Homo sapiens: one gene and its partners. The protein of the gene in region 3 interacts with the protein of the main gene of each other region in a pairwise test. Each region holds a gene or a part of one and is shown on either strand. Other genes may lie near its edges.

The links.
Region 1: the proteins of FARS2 (region 3) and HIGD1C interact in binary tests that used the Homo sapiens proteins (3 or more experiments, as listed by UniProt).
Region 2: the proteins of FARS2 (region 3) and FSD2 interact in binary tests that used the Homo sapiens proteins (3 or more experiments, as listed by UniProt).

What each region holds. Positions count from the first base shown.
Region 1 is NC_000012.12:50,950,941-50,954,695, forward strand, and holds the start of HIGD1C (HIG1 domain family member 1C), read left to right. Parts: upstream 1-1,603; 5' UTR 1,604-1,759; coding exon of another isoform or gene 1,760-1,775; exon of another isoform or gene 1,776-2,264; coding exon of another isoform or gene 2,265-2,319; exon of another isoform or gene 2,320-2,868; intron 2,869-3,050; coding exon of another isoform or gene 3,051-3,058; coding exon 3,059-3,152; intron 3,153-3,755.
Region 2 is NC_000015.10:82,781,963-82,785,617, reverse strand, and holds part of FSD2 (fibronectin type III and SPRY domain-containing protein 2), read left to right. Parts: intron 1-2,592; coding exon 2,593-2,823; intron 2,824-3,655.
Region 3 is NC_000006.12:5,267,899-5,271,553, reverse strand, and holds part of FARS2 (phenylalanine--tRNA ligase, mitochondrial), read right to left. Parts: intron 1-3,655. UniProt on the Homo sapiens protein: Is responsible for the charging of tRNA(Phe) with phenylalanine in mitochondrial translation.

The DNA of each region.
Region 1 (3,755 bases), on a different chromosome or scaffold from region 3:
CCCAAAGTGCTGGGATTACAGGCATGAGCCACCGCGCCCGGCCATAAGTTTTTTTTTAAGGTGATATATTTAGAAAAACCACCATTTAGCAAACTAAAATTAATGGATTCAAGCAAGGATCATCAACAGACACTGAAATTAATGGGTAAAAGTCTGACAAATAACAGGATATTTGTATAATATTAAAGTACCTGTTCAGAAACTACTTATTAATTAAAAGGGAGAAAAAAAAGTAACCACAGTGGAGAACCAGGCAGACACCACGTTAATCCACATGATGAAAGCAGTGGTGTGCTAGAGCCCATTCCTACCAACCCAGGAAAGGGACATTTCCCAACTTTGTGTTCCGTGATGACAGACTCTATTTAGAAATTGGGCATGGTGGGAATATTTACAACACAGAATGGGGCAATGGCAAATGCCACAGAACAGGGCAATATCTCCCCCTCCAGAGCCAGTTGAGTTGTTAAACATTTGTCAGCACCACACTGGATCAAAGTTAACTACCACCAGGCAATTCAACTTTCTGTGTCTCCTGATATTTCACACTAAGAAGAGCACAACATCATTTTTGTCATATTCTGCCCAAAATGTATGACCTCAATCTAGTGAGAAAACATGAGTTGGGGGAGGGGACGGGAACACAGGATTAGATTGAGAGGCATCCTACAAAATAACTGGCAAAACATCAAGGTCGGCTGGGCGCGGTGGCTCACACCTGTAATTTCAGCACTTTTGGGAGGCCAAGGTGGGTGGATCACCTGAGATCAGGGGTTTGAGACCAGCCCGACCAACATTGTGAAACAAAATCTCTACTAAAAATACAAAAAAATTAGCCGGGCGTGGTGTGGCGCTTCTATAGTCCTAGCTACTCGGGAGGCTGAGGCAGGAGAATTGCTTGAACCAAGGAGACAGAGGTTGCAGTGAGCCAAGATTGCGCCATCACACTCCAGCCAGGGTGACAAGAGCGAAACTCCATCTCAAAAAAAAAAAAAAAGAAAAAAAAATCAAGGTCAAGACAGACAAAGATGATTAGGAAGGTGTTTCAGACTAAAGGAGACTAAAGAAACAGGACAACTAAATGCAATATATGATCCTAATTGGATGCTAGACCAGAAATTTTTTTTTTTTTTTTTTTTTGCTATTAAGGACATAATTGGGACAACTGGTGAATATGAATAAAATCTTTAGATTGAAAAACAGAATTATATCAATGTTAAGTTTCTGATTTTGAACACTGTACTATGGTTATATAATAAAAGAATGCCCCAAATGCATACAAAAGTATATGGAAGAAAAGGCATAAGTCTGCTACTGTCAGGTGGTTCGCCAAAAATATTTTTTAAAGAAAGAAACATGTTAATAAAGGAAAATGCGGGTACCAGACACACAGTTCTTTGTACTATTCTGGGGACTTTTCTATAAGTCTGAAATTATTTAAACATTAAGTTACAAGGGAAAAACCATGAACGCTACCTGATCCTCTGCCCTCATCTCTAGGTCCACATGGCTGCAGTCGGAGGGAGGCGGTGAGCAAGGTGTTCTCCAAGGTCTCAAGGGGCCCCAAGGCTACAAGGTCAGAACAGAAGCAAAGGCCACGTCCACCACCGACCCACCTCAAGAGCCACAGCCTCTCGGGTCTCCACAGCCCCACTCAGGTCTCACACACAGGCGCAGGGACTAGCCACAGGTGCAGCAACGTCACGTCTTTCCCCTGGGCGCGTGTGCAGCTCGAGGCTTTGCAGGAGGCGCACCTGCGATGGCCTTACCGCCAGGTGAGCCCGGCGGGCTCTCATCGCCTCAGCCGGAGATTCCAACTGCAGGGAGCGCACCTCCTCTGGCTAGGGCGTGTTTCCGAAGGATGGCAAGAATCCTGGCCTCTGATGGCTATCTTCTCCCCTTCCCCTCCAAGCCCAGTGTTGTGACCCTGTGCCCTCTTTCCCCTCAATTTTGGGCCCAGGAGTCAGGTACTAAGACTCAACAGTCACAGAGGGAAGTCAGGAGCTCCCTTGTGAAGGCAGACTTAAGCAAATGCATCTTCTTCCAAAGCCTTCATGTTTTTCTTAATGTTGGCTTCAAAAGCCTAGTTTGTGGCCCAGGCTGCTACTGGTGAGTTTCTAGCAGGGTGCTGGAAATCTTGGCCAATACCAGCCGACCACTCCCCCAGTCCCCTGGGGCGTGTTTCTGGGCTTTCCCATTATCAATTAGTTGGAAATTGCACATCGTGTCCTGGCCTTACAACAAACACCTGTTCTGATCTACAGCCTCTTGCTGAAGGAACAACAGGAGACAGACAGCAGGTGGCGGGGTGTGCCACAGGTATTGTGCTTCTTACGCTTAAGTTTTCTGATGAAGTCTCATTCATAGGATGAAGCCGCTGTATTTGAATTCTGGGGTGAACACAATAAGCTGCACAGGGAACAGACTCAGGCGCTGCTAAATCTGTTGTGATTATAGTTGCTTTTGCAAGTTTCTTCATTCATCCTATGTAGACAAGCCAGGCTAGACAAGGAATCCATTGTCTAGCATAGCAACTGGCACACAGTAGGTGCTTGGTAAATATCTGAATGACTTTATAATGCCCTGCACATTCTGCAGAGTTGAAGTGATCATTCTCCCAATACCTGTAAATCTGGAAGTATTTTTGCCTATGTTGGCACTGCCATACTTCTTTAAAATGATACTTTAAAAAGAAAATGTGTTCTTCAAATACAGTGCTTGTGGAAGAAGTCCTGAGGTTCCCAGTGATCTCAAATGCTGAGCAGTGGAAAGGAGACTGAATAACAGCATTATGATCTGTGTTTTTACTCTGTATTCATGAAATCTGATTATCATTTCCTCTATGTATTTTTTTCTTATCCCCTTCCCCTGCAAAATGAAAAAATTCGGTAGTGAAAAGTGTGAAGGAAAGACAATTGTTTCAGTTGAGCAGATAGGCTTATCAAACAAATGAAAACAAAAAAACACATAATCAAGAGTATGATGGGAGAGGAAAAACAAATTATTTTTAATGATTCACGGCAACCACATTTATATCCTATTGTTACTAGAGAAAAAAATGTCTTCAGATAACCAGTGGTCAGCAGATGAGGATGAAGGCCAATTATCCCGACTAATCAGGAAATCTAGAGACTCCCCCTTTGTCCCTATAGGTAAGTACAAGCCTTGACTGGATGCAGAAAACTGTAATAACACAATGATGCCTTACCCAGTGCCTTTGCGGATTGAAATGTTTCTTATAATTGAATTTTTTCAGATAATTGAAGCTAACCTCCTCTAAGCATGTGTTGAACTTTCAGAATAGTTCCTAATACATGGTAAGCCCCCAGTAAATGTTAGCTGTTATTTGAGGCATCAAATTTTATTCTATTTTATCCATTTCATTAGAAGTCTACCTAAAATTATTAGTTCCTAGCCAGTCAAATGGAATAGATTGAATGAATATTAACATTTCAGTCATAACTCAGGACCATCAACAGCAGCATCAGTTTATTATATTTAAAGCCTATTAGGGACTATTGAGATGCATATGTCTCTTTGTCTTGTAAGTAATCTAAACTTTAAGTTCTTACATCTTCTGTTTATAGATTTTTCTGTTTCTATCTTACTATTGGGCACATTAAAAACTTCTGCTTCTAGGCCGGGCACGGTGGCTCATGCCTGTAATCCCAGCGCTTTGGGAGGCCGAGGTGGGAGGATTGCTTGAGCTCAGGAGGTGCAGGTTGCGGTGAGCCAAGATCACACCACTGCACTTC
Region 2 (3,655 bases), on a different chromosome or scaffold from region 3:
GCACGGTGGCTAACGCCTGTAATCCCAGCACTTTGGGAGGCCAAGGCGGGTGGATCACCTGAGGTTAGGAGTTCGAGACCAGACTGGCCAACATGGTGAAATCCCATTTCTACTACTAATAAAAAATTAGCTGGGTGTGGTGCCATGTGCCTGTAGTCCCAGCTACTTGGGAGGCTGAGGCAGGAGAATTGCTGGAACCCGGGAGGCAGAGGTTGCAGTGAGCCGAGATCACACCACTGCACTCCAACCTGGGCAACACAGCGAGACTCCATCTCAAATAAATAAATAAATAAATAAATAAATAAATAAATAAATAATGTATTGCCTTTGTCTAGTTAGCAATTTCCAGACTTTTCTGAGAGATCAGTAAAAGCTTAGAATTCTAGGATTGGAAAGGAGTTTCTATTCTTTGACAGCCCCTCTCCCTCCCAATCTTGACATGGGTAAGAATGTGAGCCTTGATCCAGATGCCAAGACGACTGAGATAGAAGGTGTGGTGTGGCTCTGTAACTTTTGTCCACTAGTCATATTGGCCCCTAGAGCTACACAGAATAAGACTAGCTCCTCTTTCACGGTTCAGCCTTGACAAGGTATTACAGGATACCCATCCCGTTTTTGGTAAGTGTTCTTTTCCTCAGCTGATATCTATTTCTCATAAGATTAATAAGTTTCCATGCCTGTCACCAAACATGCCACAGTCCCCTGTGTGTGCCCTAGTAGATACATGGTAACCACTATGATGCCAGAGCTCAACCCAACCTTCCAGATGAGGTCAACCAGGACTGAGGAGCTTAGGACTTGCCCTCTCTCTTCTCTTCATGCGGATGCTCTACTTCTATTAATGCAGCTTCGGATGGTACCAACAGGAGGATCTTATATGAATCAACGAAGCCCCAGGCCCATTTCCCATGAAGGTAGACCTTTTCCAGCCCCAATCTTACAAGGGAGGAGAGCTATTGCACTAATCCCCCATGGAAGATACAGAGAAGTGGCAAACCCTTCCACTGCCAAGCATAGGGTAGTGGTAGAAGGGGGTAAGTGTACAACATCGAAGACAAAACTTCTTACATTGGCCGGGCACAGTGGCTGACGCCTGTAATTTCAGCACTTTGGGAGGCCAAGGTGGCAGATCACTTGAGGTCAGGAGTTCGAGACCAGCCTAGCCAAGATGGTGAAACCCCATCTCTATTAAAAATACAAAAAAAATTAGTTGGGCTTGGTGGTGGGTGCCTGTAATCCCAGCTACTTGGGAGGCTGAGACAGGAGAATCACTTGAACCCAGGAGTCAGAGGTTGCAGTGAGCTGAGATCGCTCCACTGCACTCCAACCTGGGTGGCAAAATGAGGCTCCATAAAAAAAAAATAAAATAAAATAAAATAAAATAAAAAACTTCTTACATGCTGCTCTGCCAGCTTACTCTCAGATCAAAGTCCCTTCATCCTCAGTGGCCATCCTTTCATACTCAACACTGGGAAGTTCATCTATTGCCTTTCTCTCTCTTCCACCATTCTGAGCAAGTCCTGTGCACATAGCAGGTGTTCAGTAATTACTCCCTGAATGATTGATAAGATCCTCTTCCTTGGAAATGTCCCCATCATCTGATGAGGATGACATCCATCAGAGCTTGCAGAGCTCTGGGGACAATATAAGCAATATATACTCTATTAATATTAATATTTCTCATCTACTGTGCTCCTGGATTAATATTGTCAGAACCCTCCCTCTGCCCTCTTGCATCTTCTCATCTGTAAGCAGTGCCGCCAGACCACAACCCTTGTTCCTCCTTTGCCTTCATTTCTCCCCTAGTTGATATGATCCTAGTTGATTTAATCTTGATATTTGTATGATCCAAGCACCAGGGAGTGAAGAGGAGCCTCATGAGATGTTAAGAGCTCAGGAGAGAATGATAGATGGGAATCTCTCAGGGAAAATATTTCCACATTAAGGTCCAATATCGGGCAGAATCATCACTGATAATCTCCCTGGTCACTTGTCATGGTGATAGAAGGTAGTTGAAACTGGAACTGGATTGCAAAATGCTGCCAGGAGAGAAAGCAGTGCTTTTGTTTAGATTATTCCTGGAGTCTAGGCCGGAGACACCTATGTTCCAGCACCTCCAGTTTCCATTCCAACTCCCAACAAGAGATGAGAGGACAAAGTAGAGGAACTAAAATAGTTCTGATAGGCACATATTTTCATTTCTCTAATGACTCTAATCAGGCTGGGCGTGGTGGCTCTTGCCTGTAATCCCAACACTTTGGGAGGCTGAGGCAGGCGGATCACTTGAGGTCAGGAGTTCAAGACCAACCTGGCCAATATGATGAAACCCCATCTCTACTAAAAATACAAAAATTAGCCGGGCATGGTGATGCACACCTGTAATCCCAGCTACTCAGGAGCCTGAAGCAGGAGAATCACTTTAACCTGGGGGGCAGAGGTTGCAATGAGCCAAGATCACACTACTGTACTCCAGCCTGGGCAACACTGCAAGACTGTGTCTCAAAAACAAACAAACAAAAAAACAAAAAACAAAAGACTCTAATCAACACACTACATGCGCTGAAATGATGACTGAGATCAACTGTCTTGCAGGAGAATTTTGGAAAACAAGAACAAAACTTTGAGTCACATTACAACGAGATCTTGGAAACACTTGCTCAAAAATATGAGGAAAAAATACAAGCTCTAGGGGAGAAAAAGAAAGAGAAGCTGGAAGCCTTATATGGACAACTGGTCAGCTGTGGAGAAAACCTAGATACTTGCAAAGAACTGATGGAAACAATAGAGGAGATGTGTCACGAGGAGAAGGTGGATTTCATAAAGGTCAGTAATGAAACAAAATGAAATAATGAACATAATGGAAAGAGATGGAATTATAAACGGAAACGACAGTTATGGTTGAGGTAAGCTAGGTTGTCCTCTTTCCTCCTGGAGGCATTGGAATCGACTTTTATGGCCAGCATCCATTTGATTCCACTGGATGATCGTGATGGGGAGGCTGTGGCCCAATCTCTCTGCATGGCTTCCACGTGAGTGGCCAGGCGGACTCACAGCGCAGACTCTCTCCCTCCCCCAGCGCAGAGGCAGCACCAGTCTTTGTTCCTCTGTTCTGGTCACCCAGATACCTGTTCCCTCATCCTGGAGCTAAGCTGAGCAAAAACCGTGCTCTAACAGTTTTTTGTTGTTGTTGTTTTGTTTTGTTTTGGTTTGGTTTTTTTGAGACGGAGTCTCACTCTGTTGCCCAGGCTGGAGTGCAGTGGCGCGATCTCGGCTCACCGCCAGCTCTGCCTCCTGGGTTCACGCCATTCTCCTGCCTCAGCCTCCCTAGTAGCTGGGACTACAGGCGCTCGCCACCAAGCCCAGCTAATTTTTTTTTTTGTATTTTTAGTAGAGACGGGGTTTCACTGTGTTAGCCAGGATGGTCTTGATCTCCTGAACTCGTGATCCGCCCACCTTGGCCTCCCGAAGTGCTGGGATTACAGGCGTGAGCCACCATGCCCGGCCAAGAGTTTTATTATTATTATTATTATTATTATTATTATTATTATTATTTTGAGATGGAGTCTCGCTCTGTTGCCCAGGCTGGAGTGCAGTGGCACGATCTCGGCTCACTGCAACCTCTTCCTCCCGGGTTCAAGCAATTCTCCTGCCTCAG
Region 3 (3,655 bases):
AGTCTCTGTTCTTATACACAGCCTAATATCACAAAAAAATTAATCAAATAAAAAAATATAACTCTGGCAAGATTGCTCTAGTGAACTTTGTTCCTTTTACAAAAAATAATTCCCCTTTATCTCTAGGAGCTAGGCAACTGGTTCAAGACCAAAAGAATCCTATCTTCTCCCTGGTCACAGTTATTGGTTCAGAAATGGATGAGGACATGACACAAGGAGGGCCAGTGACATGAACGGAGAGGACTGCTGAGCACTCTTGGTCCAGAAGCTCTCTCACTCCTCTAAGGTTTTGGAAACAAGCGCCCCCAAACTGTTGATGGTTTCCCATAACCGAGAGAGAGGACTCTGGCCAGACGATAAAATTTACGTTAGAGAAGACAAAGTAGAGAAAAGCACAAAATTGAATCTTTGGCAACATCACTCAAACCAATCAACCCTAAAGCCCATCTGGCTTCTGAACCCTCAAGACACAGGAGACAATAAAGCCACTAGGTTTGTTTAAAACAATTTGACTTCAGTTACTTGCAATGGCAGTCACTCTAAGCTGAAGAGCAATTCACCATACTAAGGGAGCTTAACAGAGGAAGATGTACTCAAGTTAGAGAAGGTAGCTTTGAGTAAGCATCTCTTAAACTGAGATCAGAAGAATAATTAGCAAGGGAAGGAAGGGCACTCCAGGCAGCTGGATCAGCATTTGCAAAGGTCCCCAGGGTAGAGGGGAAAGAGGTGAGTACTAAAGAATGAAAAGCAGCAAGCGAAAAATAAAAAGGTATGACATGGGACTGGAGAAGTGGGTAAGCGCCATAGTCGTCAGGGTCTCATAGGCTGTGTTAAGGAATTAGACTTCATCCTAAAAGTGCTGCAGGTTTTTGGAGAGAAGGTGATATAAAAATTACTGTCTATAGTGTGGTGACATTAATTCATATATATCTAAGGAACATACCTGACCACCAGTACTATAATGAACATTTCATTTTCAAATAGCTTTCAAGACAACAGAAAAATTTCAGCAAACACTGTAACTTGACACACGTGGAATCTCTTCTACAAAGTTAACAGAAGGGCATCCAGACAGCTTGACAGCTCTAGCGAACCACACTTATGTCCTGAAACGTATTAATCTGGGATAGTTTACTTGGAAATTATTTGAAGACCTGGGCTCTACAAATGAAAGCTGACTGTAATTATCATCCAGCCCAGCTCTCACAGTACGCAGAAGCCAAGGGTGTAAGTGGGATTCCTAACAGGGCTTAATGTTATGAATGCCCAGGCACATGTGCTTGTCTCAAAGTGCTCCAAGACTTGAAATAAATAACAATGTGCTTATCTCAGAACGTCAAGAAACAGGAAAGAAAGTATGCTGCCTGCTAAGCTTTTTCTATTTCATGACTGCTTCATTTTACTTTCCCTTTGCACTGCAGAATTCCAGGAATTGATTTAAAAAAAGATAATTCTCCCAAAAAACTCATCTTCATTAACTGAAACTAACTGTTTTACTCTCTGCCAATATTACTGTAATCCATTTCACAGAAGCCAGGCTTTTATAACTCTTAAATATTGTTAGTTAACTCAAACTCACAATTACACATACAGATTACAAGTTTGCCAGGCTGAAGTGCTTCAATTGTGCTCAGAAAATAAATGTTTACATTAAAACGTTATAAAATATTAAATCATGTAATTCACTATAATACCAAAGAAATCATGAATTCTCTGTATATCTTCTATTGTTAATAACAGTCTACAGTATACTATCAACGATATGTATCGACCCATCCTCTGAGAGATCAGTTAACATCACAGATCTCAGTATTGCACATCTTAAGACACTGACCTAGTATTTTTCCAGTGATTAGCAAAATGTAGGCTGTTTTTTGTAAACAGACTCAACACTGCAAATTCTAAATGTTTTCTGTAAACAACCTACTGACCTGAACAAACAAGAGATGGCGGCTAATACACTCATTCGAAGAAGTCAATCAGAACTTCAAATATGTCACTAGAAAAATTACTAAAATGAGATACTGCTAAACAGCAATGAAAGGACTCTTCTTTTCTCTTTTTTTTTTTTTGGTTATTTTCATTTTTTTTTTTATTATACTTTAAGTTCTAGGGTACATGTGCACAAGGTGCAGGTTTGTTACATATGTACACATGTGCCATGCTGGCATTAGGTATATCTCCTAATGCTATCCCTCCCCCCTCCCCCAACCCCACCACAGGCCCCGGTGTGCGATGTTCCCCATCCTGTGTCCAAGTGTTCTCGTTGTTCAATTCCCACCTATGAGTGAGAACATGCGGTGTTTGGTTTTCTGTCCTTGCGATAGTTTGCTCAGAATGATGGTTTCCAGCTTCATCCATGTCCCTACAAAGGGCATGAACTCATCCGTTTTTATGGCTGCATAGTATTCCATGGTGTATATGTGCCACATTTTCTTAATCCAGTCTATCATTGATGGACATTTGGGTTGGTTCCAAGTCTTTGCTATTGTGAACAGTGCTGCAATAAACACATGTGTGCATGTGTCTTTACAGAGCATAATTTATAATCCTTTGGGTATATACCCAGTAATGAGATTGCCGGGTGAAATGGTATTTCTAGTTCTAATACCTAGGAATCCAACCTACAAGGGATGTGAAGGACCTCTTCAAGGAGAACTACAAACCACTGCTCAATGAAATAAAAGAGGACACAAACAAATGGAAGAACATTCCATGCTCATGGATAGGAAGAATCAATATCGTGAAAATGGCCATACTGCCCAAGGTAATTTATAGATTCAGTGCCATCCCCATCAAGCTACCAATGACTTTCTTCACAGAATTGGAAAAAACTACTTTAAAGTTCATATGACCCAAAAAAGAGCCCGCATTGCCAAGTCAATCCTAAGCAAAAAGAACAAAGCTAGAGGCATCACGCTACCTGACTTCAAACTATACTACCAGGCTACAATAACCAAAACAGCATGGTACTGTTACCAAAACAGAGATATAGATCAACGGAACAGAACAGAGCCCTCAGAAATAATACCACACATCTACAACCATCTGATCTTTAACAAACCTGACAAAAATAAGAAATGGGGAAAGGATTCCCTATTTAATAAATGGTGCTGGGAAAACTGGCTAGCCATATGTAGAAGCTGAAACTGGATCCCTTCCTTACACCTTATACAAAAATTAATGTGAGATGGATTAAAGACTTAAATGTTAGACCTAAAACCATAAAAACCCTAGAAGAAAACCTAGGCAATACCATTCAGGACATAGGCATGGGCAAGGACTTCGTGTCTAAAACACCAAAAGCAATGGCAACAAAAGCCAAAATTGACAAATGGGATCTAATTAAACTAAAGAGCTTCTGCACAGCAAAAGAAACTACCATCAGAGTGAACAGGCAACCTACAGAATGGGAGAAAATTTTTGCAATCTATCCATCTGACAAAGGGCTAATATCCAGAATCTACAAAGAACTTAAACAAATTTACAAGAAAAAAATCAAACAACCCCATCAAAAAGTGGGCGAAGGATATGAACAGACACTTCTCAAAAGAAGACATTTATGCAGCCAAAAAACACATGAAAAAATGCTCATCATCACTGGCCATCAGAGAAATGCAAATCAAAACCACAATGAGATACCATCTCACACCAG